2 separate regions of the Homo sapiens genome follow, and region 1 is linked to region 2. A link means that fine-mapping ties the variant in region 2 to the expression of a gene that starts in the linked region. Tissue or cell type: whole blood. Region 2 holds a variant in brackets; the other region holds the start of a gene. All regions are shown on one strand. Distances are between the middles of the regions. Region 1 holds the start of MYBPC3 (myosin binding protein C3). Region 2 overlaps SPI1 (Spi-1 proto-oncogene).

Region 1 (5,335 bases), 23 kb before region 2:
TGGAGTCTTGCTCTGTCACCCAGGCTGGAGTGCAGAGGCACAATCTCGGCTCACTGCAAGCTCCGCCTCCCAGGTTCACACCATTCTCCTGCCTCAGCCTCCCAAGTTAGCTGGGACCGCAGGTGCCCGCCACCACGCCCGGCTAATTTTTTTGTATTTTTAGTAGAGATGGGGTTTCATCATGTTAGCCAGGATGGTCTCAATCTCCTGACCTCATGATCCGCCCACCTCGGCCTCCCAAAGTACTGGGGATTATAGGCCTGAGCCACCGCACCTGGCCCAGCAAAGGCTTTTGAGACCTGCCCTGGACACGCCCTACCCACGGATCCTGCCCCTCCCTGCCCAGCCCCTCTCACCTTTGGGACTTGGGGCACTTTCTCCCAGCTCAGCGGCTGGGGCCGGGGCTTCTCCAGGGGCTCCAGTGGCCTCAGCAGGGGCAGGGGCAGGGGCCAGCATGGGCTCTGCCTTCTCTGGAGGGGATCAGATGGGAGTCGTGGTGCAGCCACTAACCAGAGACCCCTCCACCCTCTCTCTCCTGAGCATTGGACCCATGAGCCCGCTGTGGATGAGGAAAGTCTGCCATGGCTGTCCTCCCGCTGCCTGGGCCCCTCAGAGGCAGCTCATGCTGAGCTGGAGAGCCAGCCTGCCTCTCACATTCTCCTCCCCGTCCCAGGCCATCAGTTCCCATGTCCTCTGCATCTGCCCTGAACAGCTCCAGGTCCATCCCTGCTCTGCCCCAGCCTTAGAGCAGCCCCTCAGACTGGGCTGCACTCCCCTCATCCACAGCTCCTGGGGCTTCCCGGCCGTCTGTGCAGGGTCATCTCCCCAGGGAGGTCTGCAGGGGGAGAGTGGGGTTGTGTCTTGTTCATCTCTCCCACCTACCCCATGGCTGGAACAAGCCAGGATGGCACATGGGGGTACTCAGAGAGGTCATGTGCAGAAAAGGGGGAAAGGGCGTTCCTGGCGGGGGGCACAGCCACAGCAAAGGCAAGAAAGTGTGAAAGCACCTCCTGTTCCCTGGATGGATGGAGAGTCGCTGGGCTGCCCCTCCCCCAGCAGCCCAAACCTCAGGGAAGGCTGATCAGGATCTTACCTGCCTCTATGACCTTGAGGTCGAACTTGACCTTGGAGGAGCCAGCAATGACTGCGTAAGATCCCTGGTCGGCAGGGCCCACTTCCCGCACTGTCAGCGTATGCCGTGTGCCCTCTGTGGCCAGGCCGTACTTGTTGCTGGCGCTGATGTCACTGCCTCCGCGCTGCCAGCGCACCTTCACTCCTGCCCGCTCTGTCTCGGCCTCGAACACGGCAGGGCTGCCTGCGGCCACTTCCACTGACCGTGGCTTCTTGCTAAAAGCTGAGACTGAAGGGCCAGGTGGAGGCTACAGCGGCCCCTGGTTGGAGCGTGCACCCCGCCCCTGCAGCCCCTCTCAGTAAATACTGTGCTAGCACTTTCTATGCATCCCCTCACGTAATACTCTACCAGTTCTCTGAGGTAGTTGCAGTTATTCTGTTCATTTCTCAGAGGAGGACACTGAGGCTCAGAGAAGCTAAGCGGCTCCTCCAAGATCACACAGCTAGCAGTCGGGAGAGCCAGGGCTGTGGTCCTGACCTCCCAACAAGACTTTTTCTGCATGTGTCCACTTTCCCTGCTTGGAGACACCCGTGATGAACCCAGCTCCCTTTCCCCCAACCATTTCGGGCCCTTGGCAGGGGGCGGGGAAGTCTGCCTACTTGGAATGTGGCCAAATTTGTCCTCCAAGGACCTCAGGCTGGGTATCAGCAACTGAGATAAAGCTGGCCTGGGAGGGCGCTGGGGGATGGGGACCTGGATCTCTGCCCTGGACAACCTTCATAAGGGCACAGCCCAGGCCCAGGTCCCTGGGCTGTGATTTTCCCTGCCCTTGGCCTGGGTTCAGGGGCTCCTGACTGTCCTCTCTCAGAGAAGAGGGGCTGTGTCACCCTCAACATGGGGGCCACACCGTACAGGCTCATGAAGCAGATAATGTCACAGCCAGGAGGAACCAACCCAATGCCACCACCACCCCCGGCACCCCAGGTTGGGAGACTGAGACCCATAGTGGGTAGAGACTGGTCTGAAGGCATGCCGTGAGCCTGGCTCAGCTCCATACTAAACGTGGGCTCTGTCCGCGGGGAACCTTGCTGTGGAAGGTGAAGGCAATGGGACAGGGAAGGGGTCCCTTTGCATTCTCAGAATGGGTTGACCCCGGGTGCTTCCTGTCTTGGCTGTGTCCCCTCTCTGCGTCCCTGACCTTGGGTTTACCTTCACCTCTCATCAGAGGGATGGGAAAAAGAAACCGAGAATCAAAAAAGGACCCTGGAGGACTGGCTGCCCCTGTCCTGGGGCTCAGAGGCCACGTCCTCGTCAACCCCCTCAAGAACTCCCTCCTAGCCCTGCTCCCCAATTGTAGACACCCCCCTGCTCCCACACTTAGACCCAACCCCAGTCCTAAAGCTACCTGGCTTCTTCCCCGGCTCAGGCATCCTGAGAGACGTCACACCAGGCACGAAGCAGGCACAGGTCACCCAAAGAGGGACTGAGTGGGGTCCTGTCCTTCCCACTATATATGGGGACCTCCCCCCTCCCCAGGCTCTGCTTATCTGCCTCCTGTCCAGCCACCTGCTAAATATAGATGAATTCCAGAGAGCTGAGGTCTCTCCAGGGAGAAGGTAGGGCCACATTGTCCCTGGCTGGCTCCTGTCCCTTCCCCCCTCACCCCCCGCAGCACAATTCTGCCTCCCCAACCTTTGGCAAGCCTCAGGGGTACTCCAAGCCCCGTGTGTGTCCCTCTTACAGCAAATTGTACGGTGGGAGCATGCTGGGCCCATAACCCTAAGGCTAACGGGTCAGGAGCATCCTCGCAGGCAGTTCAGGCAGTGGTCATGTCCACAGACCCTGGGGCCAGGGTGTCTCTGAGTCCTAGCACTGCCATCTCTTTAATCTCAAAGCACCTGGTTTCCTCATCTGTAAAGCGGGGTGGGTGAAAGCAGCACCCACTGCACAGGATTGTCACACGTATGAAGTGGGTTTATAATTTTAAAAATGTTAGGCCGGGTGTGGTGGCTCATCTGTAATCCCAGCACTTTGGGAGGCCGAGGCAGGCAGATTATTTGAGGCCAGGAGTTTGAGACCAGCCTGGGCAACATGGCAAAACCCCATCTCTACTAAAAAAATAAAAAATAAAATAAATACACACACACACACAAATTAGCCAGGTGTGGTGGTGTGGACCTGTAGTATCAGCTACCCAGGAGGCTGAGGTGGGAGGATCGCTTGAGTCCAAGGAGTTCCGGGCTGCAGTGAGCCAAAATCGCACCACTGCACTGCAGCCTGGGTGACAGAGTGATAATAATAATAAAAATATTATTTATTATTATTTTTTATTATTAATATCTCAAAGAATAATAATAAAAAAATAAAAATGGGCTGGGCGAAGTGGCTCACACCTGTAATCCCAGCACTTTGGGAGGCTGAGGCGGGCAGATCACTTGAGCTCAGGAGTTCGAGACCAGCCTGGGCAACATGATGAAACCCCATCTGTACAAAAAATACAAAAATCAGTCAGGCATGTGACGCACACCTGTAGTCCCAGATGCTCGGGAGGCTGAGGCAGGAGAATCACTTGAGCCCGGGGGGTCAGGGCTGCAGTGAGCCATGTTCGTGCCACTGCACTCCAGCCTGGGCAACAAAGTAAGACCCTGTCTCAAAAAAAAAAAAATAAAAATAGAAGAATGAAGACACAACACCATTTTGCCTTCTCTTGTGGCCCTGCAGTAGGACTAGGGAGCTGCAGGGTTGGGCTGCAGTGAGCCCTCTGGGGTTGAGGAGGTGTGGGGCGGGTATTTGTCCCTACGATAATGGCCCCAGAATCTGGGTTCCCTAAGGTCTTTGACAGCGTTGGGAAGTCCCTCACTCCCAGGCTGTCTACTGCCACTACTTGCTACCGTCTGGAGGAAAACACAGGACTTACAGGCTTCTCCGCTCAGCTTGGTCTGTTTCTCCCCTGCTGTGGCTAGGAGCTAGAAAGCAAATAGAACCTGGGGGTCCCACCAGGGATTCACTTGGGTCTAAAGTCCTGCTGGGCGTGCAGCTCGTGAGAACCCTTTGCGGCCCACAGGAGCTTTGGGGCTTAATTCCTGTCCTCGGAATGCTGAAGAGTATCCTCTTCCAGATAAGCAAGGCCTCCCACTCCATGTTGACGTGTCGGGACAGACCTGGAGTGTGATCCAACTTGGCCACTCAACGGCTGTGACCTTGGGGAAATAATTTGACCTCTACAAGCCTCAGTTTCCCATTCTATAAAATGGAGTGATATTAGACTCCACATCTCAAGGTTGGCAGATACTAATTGACCAGAATATCAAATGTTGTTGCTGGTCATGGTCATCATCATCATCATCATCATCATCATGAGTTCAAACCTCATCAAGGCTTAAAAACAACAACTATCAGGAGTAGAGAGCTTTTAAATAGGATCTGCTCTCCTAATCACAATTGAGGACTTGTTCTTTCCACCAAACTCTAACTCCTGTTCAGGCGCTCTGTGTCATTGGTCCTCATGTTCCCAGGGTCCAGCATTGGGTACAGTCCTCGGTAAACACCCGATGGACAAATGACAAAAAGAGACGTCGCAGCACACAGGGGCCAAAAGAGATACACAACAAATTTTAAAAGAGACTCTGTGCTGCAAGAGGATGGATTGAGAATAACTTTACTTGTTTTTTGGGAGGAGGTTAATGGGTGGGAGGGGTGAGAGGGGAGATCTGATTTACATACGGACTTGAGACTCCCAAGGCAGTACCCCGGGTCGTCCTCTGCAAGGTTGCCCCGGTGGGGTCTGACGCCCAGCTGGCGTCCGGGAGCCGGGGTGGAGTCCTGGAGGGAGGCGAAGCGGGATGTGGAGGGGGCCTGGAGTGGGGGGAGGGGGCGGGTGAGGCGAGGCCCGGCCCGCCACAGTCCTGCCTCTGGGCCCCGGGAGCGTCCTCCCTGTGTCCGGGCCGGGCGAGGGCTTAATGCTATGGCCAGCGGGGAGGCCTGGCGGGGCCCGGCGGGGGCTGCGGGCTCAGTGGGGCGGGTGGCGCCGCTCGGCCAGGCCCCCGCGGCCCAGCACTTCGCCGCTGAACTGGTAGGTGAGCTTCTTCTTCACCTTCTTGACCTCGCCCGTCTTGCCGTAGTTGCGCAGCGCGCGCGCCATCTTCTGGTAGGTCATCTTCTTGCGGTTGCCCTTCTGGATGCCCCAGCGGTGCGCCAGCGCCTCCTTGTGCTTGGACGAGAACTGGAAGGTGCCCTTGTCCTTGTCCACCCACCAGATGCTGT
Region 2 (5,364 bases):
CCAAAGCTTTTTCACTAAGCTTCAGTACCTAAAAATGTGGACAAAGAGGACGTGCAGGAATTGACAGAAGTGTGTGGGGGTCTCTATGGTTGAGTCTTCAGACGATACCTTCCAGCGGGTATAAAAAGGGACAGCCCGGCCGGGCGCAGTGGCTCACGCCTGTAATCCCAGCACTTTGGGAGGCTGAGGCAGGCGGATCACCAGGTCAGGAGTTCGAGACCAGCCTGGCCAACATAGTGAAACCCTGTCTCTACTAAAAATACAAAAAATTAGCTGAGCGTGGTGGCAGGCGCCTGTAATCCTAGCTACTTGGGAGGCTGAGGCAGGAGAATCGCTTGAATCCGGGAGGCGGAGGTTGCAGTGAGCCAAGATTGTGCCACTGCACACCAGCCCGGGCGACAGTACGAGACTCCGTATCAAAAAAAAGGGACAGACTGGGCGCGGTGGTTCACACCTGTAATCCCAGCACTTTGGGAGGCCGAGGCAAGTGGATCACTTGAGGTCAGGAGTTTGAGAGCAGCCTGGCCAACATGGTAAAACCTCATCTCTACTAAAAATACAAAAATTAGCCAGGCATGGTAGTGCACGATTGTAATCCTAGCTACTTGGGATGTTGAGGCAAGAGAATCGCTTGGACCCAGGAGGCGGAGGTTGCAGTGAGCCAAGATTGGGCCACTGCGCTCTAGCCTGGGCAACAGAGCAAGACTGTCCTAAAAAAAAAAAAAAAAGAAAAGGACAGCCCAAATGCCCTGATTGGCAGTGATTAAGAGTGGGACAGAGCCAAGGCCGAGGACACCTGGGAACACTGGTGGAGTCTCTGGAGGAACTAGGGGTTCATGACCAACATGGGGTGCCCAGGCATCCAATCAGGAGTCATTCCTAGAGTCCCACCTGAGATATAAGGAACCTGCTTGGACCCTGAGCCACGAAAACACATGCTTTCTCTAAAGTGCTCACTCCATCAGGCCCAGCCCCAGGCTCACTGGTTTCCAGCTATGTGGGCAGCGCCCTCATATTACAGGAAGGAAAACTGAGGCTGCAAAAGGCCCAAAGGAAACGCACCCAAGCCCAGTGAACTGAAGAGGGATTGGGCCAGGGAGAATGCGTCCTTGTTGGAGGAGGCCTGACAGCACTGTCTGTGGTGACCCGAGCCACCAGGGGGCGCCTGTCCCAGGGCCCAGCGGGACCTCCTGGAGTCCTGGAACCGCTTGGGAAGGTGGGTGCGTGGTCTCTGGGTCCCCCAGACCGGGCTCTTCACTCTGGTAGGGAGAGCTGGGGATGGAGTTGGGGGAGGGGGACTTTCTCTCTACATTGCCTGGGTTTCCCACCAAGAGGATGTGTTTTTTACATAATTACAAATAAGCTTGAAGGAATTAAAAAGGATATTTTAAAGGCTTTCTAGCCCTGAAAGATTCTAAAAGATGCCTGTGCGTTCCCAGCTGTGGCCTGGAGGCATATCCGCCTACCCCTGGGATATGGCTTCCAGTCTGAGTTCCGGATGAATCTGGGGCCCTAAATGTGGACCAGGCACATGTGGATCCCTAGCTGGGCCCATCAGGTTTAGACCGCCACAGGTGCATCTGCAGAATGGAGCTACAGGCATGACTGGCCGCAGGGGTGGCCTTCAGGAGTGACACCTTCCTAGGCTGTGGGCCTCTGCCCTCTGAGGTGCAGACACCCCAGTCGCTGGTCTGCCCGGGTCCCAGACGCCCTGAGGAATTCCCCAGTGACGACTCACCCACTGACTAGGCCACCTCGCTTTGGGTCAGGGATGTCTACATCAATAAGCCAAGATCCACTTTGGGCAACCTCCCGCAGCCCCCTGCTCAGGTCCCAGGCACCTAATGCCTCTCTCCCATCCCCTGAATTTGCTCCAGGACGGAGGCTGGGCTATGGGGCAGACAGTCAGACCCAGAAGGACTGGACAGACAGAAGGACACCCTGGCCCAGGCCTCTTCCTCCCACTTCAGCAAACTGGGGGCCTCGGCCTCTGCTGAACAAGAGGTTCTCATAGGTTTTCCTTCGGCCCAGCAGTTCCCAATTAGGGGTGATTTTGCCTCCCGGGGGGATCTGCCAATGGGTGGAGACATTTTTGGTTGTCATGATTGGCCATGGCCCTGGCATGTGGTAGGTAGAAGCAAGGATGCCACTAAGCTTCCTACGGTACCCGGGACAGCCCACCCAGGAATCATCCCACCCAAAATGTCAGCAGTGCCACAGTTAGGAAACCCTGCCAACCACACATGGCAGGAAGTGCGGATGTGCCGGCGGGGAGTTTGGGACAGAGAGTGACGAGAACAGAGAGGAGGAGGTGGGTAGTTAGGCAGGGGCAGAAAAAAAAGCACAGGACCTGGAGCGGACAGACCTGGGTTCCACCCAGCAGCCGTGTGACCTTGTGCAAGTCTCCTAGCACCCTAAGCCTGTTTCCTTGTTTATAAAGAAGACCACAAGGACAGAACCAGCAGATAACCATGGAAGAAATGAACCCCGCACCTTGACACACTGCAGAGGCTCCATAATGGAGGCTCAGGTGTGGGGGTGCAGCGATGATGCTGCAGTTCACTGCCTTTGAGAGCAAACTTGATCTGATTCTCAGAATTCCAAAGAAGTCCTGGGAATCATTTATTCTTTTTCTCTCTCCAGACCCCAGGAGCCCAGGCTGGGCTGGGGGATGGGGGCGTGGCAGGCCCCGTACTCACCGCTATGGCTCTCCCCATCACTGCTGAGATAGGGGTAATACTCGTGCGTTTGGCGTTGGTATAGATCCGTGTCATAGGGCACCAGGTCTTCTGATGGCTGCTGAGAGAGGAGGTGTCAGGGCCTGCACCATGGTGGGAGACCCCAGCCAGGCCTGCAGCACCCCCGCAC[G/A]CTGGGTCCCCATCACCTTCCCTGGCTCAGTGGCTGCGTTGGACCTACAGCCCTCCCTCTGCCTGGAACTGGGACAGAGAGTGGGGCAGGGGACCCAGAAGGCCTGAAAAGGGGTGACAGGGACCTTGGGGGTGAGAGGTCAGAAGAGGACCAGGGTCCCCCTCTGCTGGGCTACTCCCCATAGCCACCTCACGCTCACACTCACACTCACGCCTGTGTGCCCCCATCCTCATCCCACACACCTCTCCTGGTCACACTGATGCACATGTCCACACGATCCCTGTGTCACCCTCACACTCATAATCCCACACGAGGACTCACTCTCACAGCCCCTACCCACCCCCATGCAGGCGCCTGCACACTATCCCTCACACACACATCTTCATACCCACTCAGAGGTCACCCACCTCACAGAGACATTGTACACTCAGCTCATGCACACACGCAGAGTCTCCTTGATTGACACTCACATGACACCACGTTCCAGCCATCAACACACACACTCACACCCCCAGAGCCACTCACATTCCACCTGCACACTCAACCGCACAGCACACACTTGCCTGCCCAGCCCCACTCTCACAGCCTATGCCTCTCACACAGCCTGGGCAAGAGTGGCACCACAATGACCCTCCACACTGACGGTTGGTGCAGGGGTCACCCAGGCAGACTTAGGGGCCGAGCGCATGGAGGGCCTTGATCCCCTCACTCTCCCTCCTGAGTCCTCCCTATCCTCCTCCTTCCCTCCTCACTGCATCCCCCTCCCCGTCTCCTTTGCTTCCTCCTCCCCCTCCTCACTCCCCTCTGTCCTCCTTTTCTTCCCCCTCTTCCCTGTCCTCCTTCTTTCCTCCCACCTTCCTCCCTCCTCCCTGTCCTCCTCCCCCTACTGGCACAGACACAGGGCCGTGCACACCCAGGAGCCTTCCCAACAGTCATCAGGCCTCCCCGCCCCCGCAGCGTGTGGCCCAGGATTGCATAACAGTCACTGTGGCCCTTAGGGCTGGGCTTGGGGGACCGGGGCTGCCTTGGGAGCCCACCCTACCAGGAGACACTCAGAGTGACCCTGGAGCTTGCAGAGAGGGCTGGGGGTGCCTAGGGATGGCCCAAGGAGCTCTGCCACCCATCTAGCTCCACCTGGAGTTCAGAATTGAGAGGTCAGGGATCAGAGACAGTGGGCCTGTGGCTTTCTTGAGGCAGAATTGGCTCTTTCTGAGACAACCTCCGTCACCCTCTGCCTGGGCCGCCCACTTCGTGTTCCCAGGTGGGAAGGGGTGTCGGTGTGGATGCCACAGCAGGCTGGCTGGTCCTGCCTGGTCCTGCCTGTGGCTGGCCAAGTGAGGAGGCCAGGAGCCCAGCACTGAGCCTGCCCCTCTGGGTTTCCAGGTAGTACAGCCTCGCTGCAGGATGTCAGCCCGGCTCTGGTCGGGTTGGTGTGATGTCAGGCCTGGGGTGCCTCCCAGCCTCCTGGGGTGGCTCTGAGCCAGGGCATAGTGGGGGAAGGGAGCTGCCTCTAGACCAGGAAAGTGGATTCAGGTGGGCAGCCTGCCAAGCCCTTCCCGGCTCCCCTCAAGCCTCCTCACTCCTGAGAGGTCATGGGGTGGGAAAAGGGAGAAGGGTCCTTTCCGAGGGACCCTGGTCTGACACCTGCCTAAGGCTGCAACTGTCACTGAGAGTGAGGAGCAGTGGCGATCTGCCCTTCTCTTCTCGGGGTCCCCTGGGGCTCCCACTTCTTCACCCCCAAGACCCAGTCCCTGTCCTTGTCCCAGCCTCAGCCCCCATTCTCACTTATCACATGCTCACCCCAGGTCCCACCCAGCCCCAATCTCAGTCCTGGCCTTGTCCCAGCCCTGTCCCCTGCCGCGCCTCTCCCTGAACTCCAGCCCTGGGGCCAGCCCTAACTGCACTGTCTCAGCTCCACTCCTGGCTCCTTTCCAGCACCAGTCCCTGTCTCCTGTGGGTACCCCTGTGGGCCCATGGCCCTGACCCTTTGGTCAACAATCATGTCCTCTGTGCCAGGCCCCAGACTGGGCGTTGGGGACCCAGAGTTCCATCAGCTTTGGTTTCCAGGAGCCCCAAGGCCATGGGCCAAGACTTCTGCCCATTGCCTCCTGCCTTCAACCCCTTCCCATCCAGGGGACCGGCCTCCCCCAAGCCAGTCCCCCCATCTCCCTCCTCTACCTCTCTACCACCGCCTTCACCATCCTCAGCCCAGCACCCTCCCCAGGAGCCCCGGCCTCCGCCTGCCACCCGAGCCCTGTCTATAAATAACTGTTCAGGCCCCACCGATCACAGCCCCACCGTGGGCCTGGCCTCAGCCCGCCAGGGCATGCTCCGAGGAAGCCAATGGCCCCCTCGCTGGGTCTCAGGCCAGGAGTTCCAGGGAGGAAACCCTGACTTCCCACTGATAGCAAGCCAGGAGGGCAGTGGGTGGGCTGGCGGGTTCGTGGGCAGGCAGGCAGGCGTCCGAGGGCCACGGGTTGGGCTGGTGGAGGAGTC

What was found. PIP is the estimated chance that this variant, and not a neighbour inherited with it, causes the effect.
Region 1: it holds the start of MYBPC3, and the variant in region 2 is fine-mapped to the expression of MYBPC3 in whole blood (INTERVAL, PIP 0.94).

The regions. Positions count from the first base shown.
Region 1 is chr11:47,350,146-47,355,480 of GRCh38, forward strand. It overlaps MYBPC3 (myosin binding protein C3), which reads right to left and starts at 2,557. Exons shown (of 35, transcript NM_000256.3): 1 at 2,478-2,557; 2 at 1,094-1,360; 3 at 357-470. The coding sequence starts at 2,502. SPI1 (Spi-1 proto-oncogene) reads right to left here. Exons shown (of 5, transcript NM_003120.3): 5 at 4,715-5,335. The coding sequence ends at 5,082. RefSeq lists enhancers at 219-1,200, 1,201-2,181.
Region 2 is chr11:47,372,934-47,378,297 of GRCh38, forward strand. SPI1 (Spi-1 proto-oncogene) reads right to left here. Exons shown (of 5, transcript NM_003120.3): 2 at 2,700-2,796. Among named protein-coding and RNA genes, the nearest start is that of SPI1, 2.9 kb to the right of the region's middle. RefSeq lists enhancers at 1,233-1,734, 4,168-4,367, 5,038-5,087, 5,261-5,364. The variant G/A (reference allele first, on the strand shown) is at 2,869.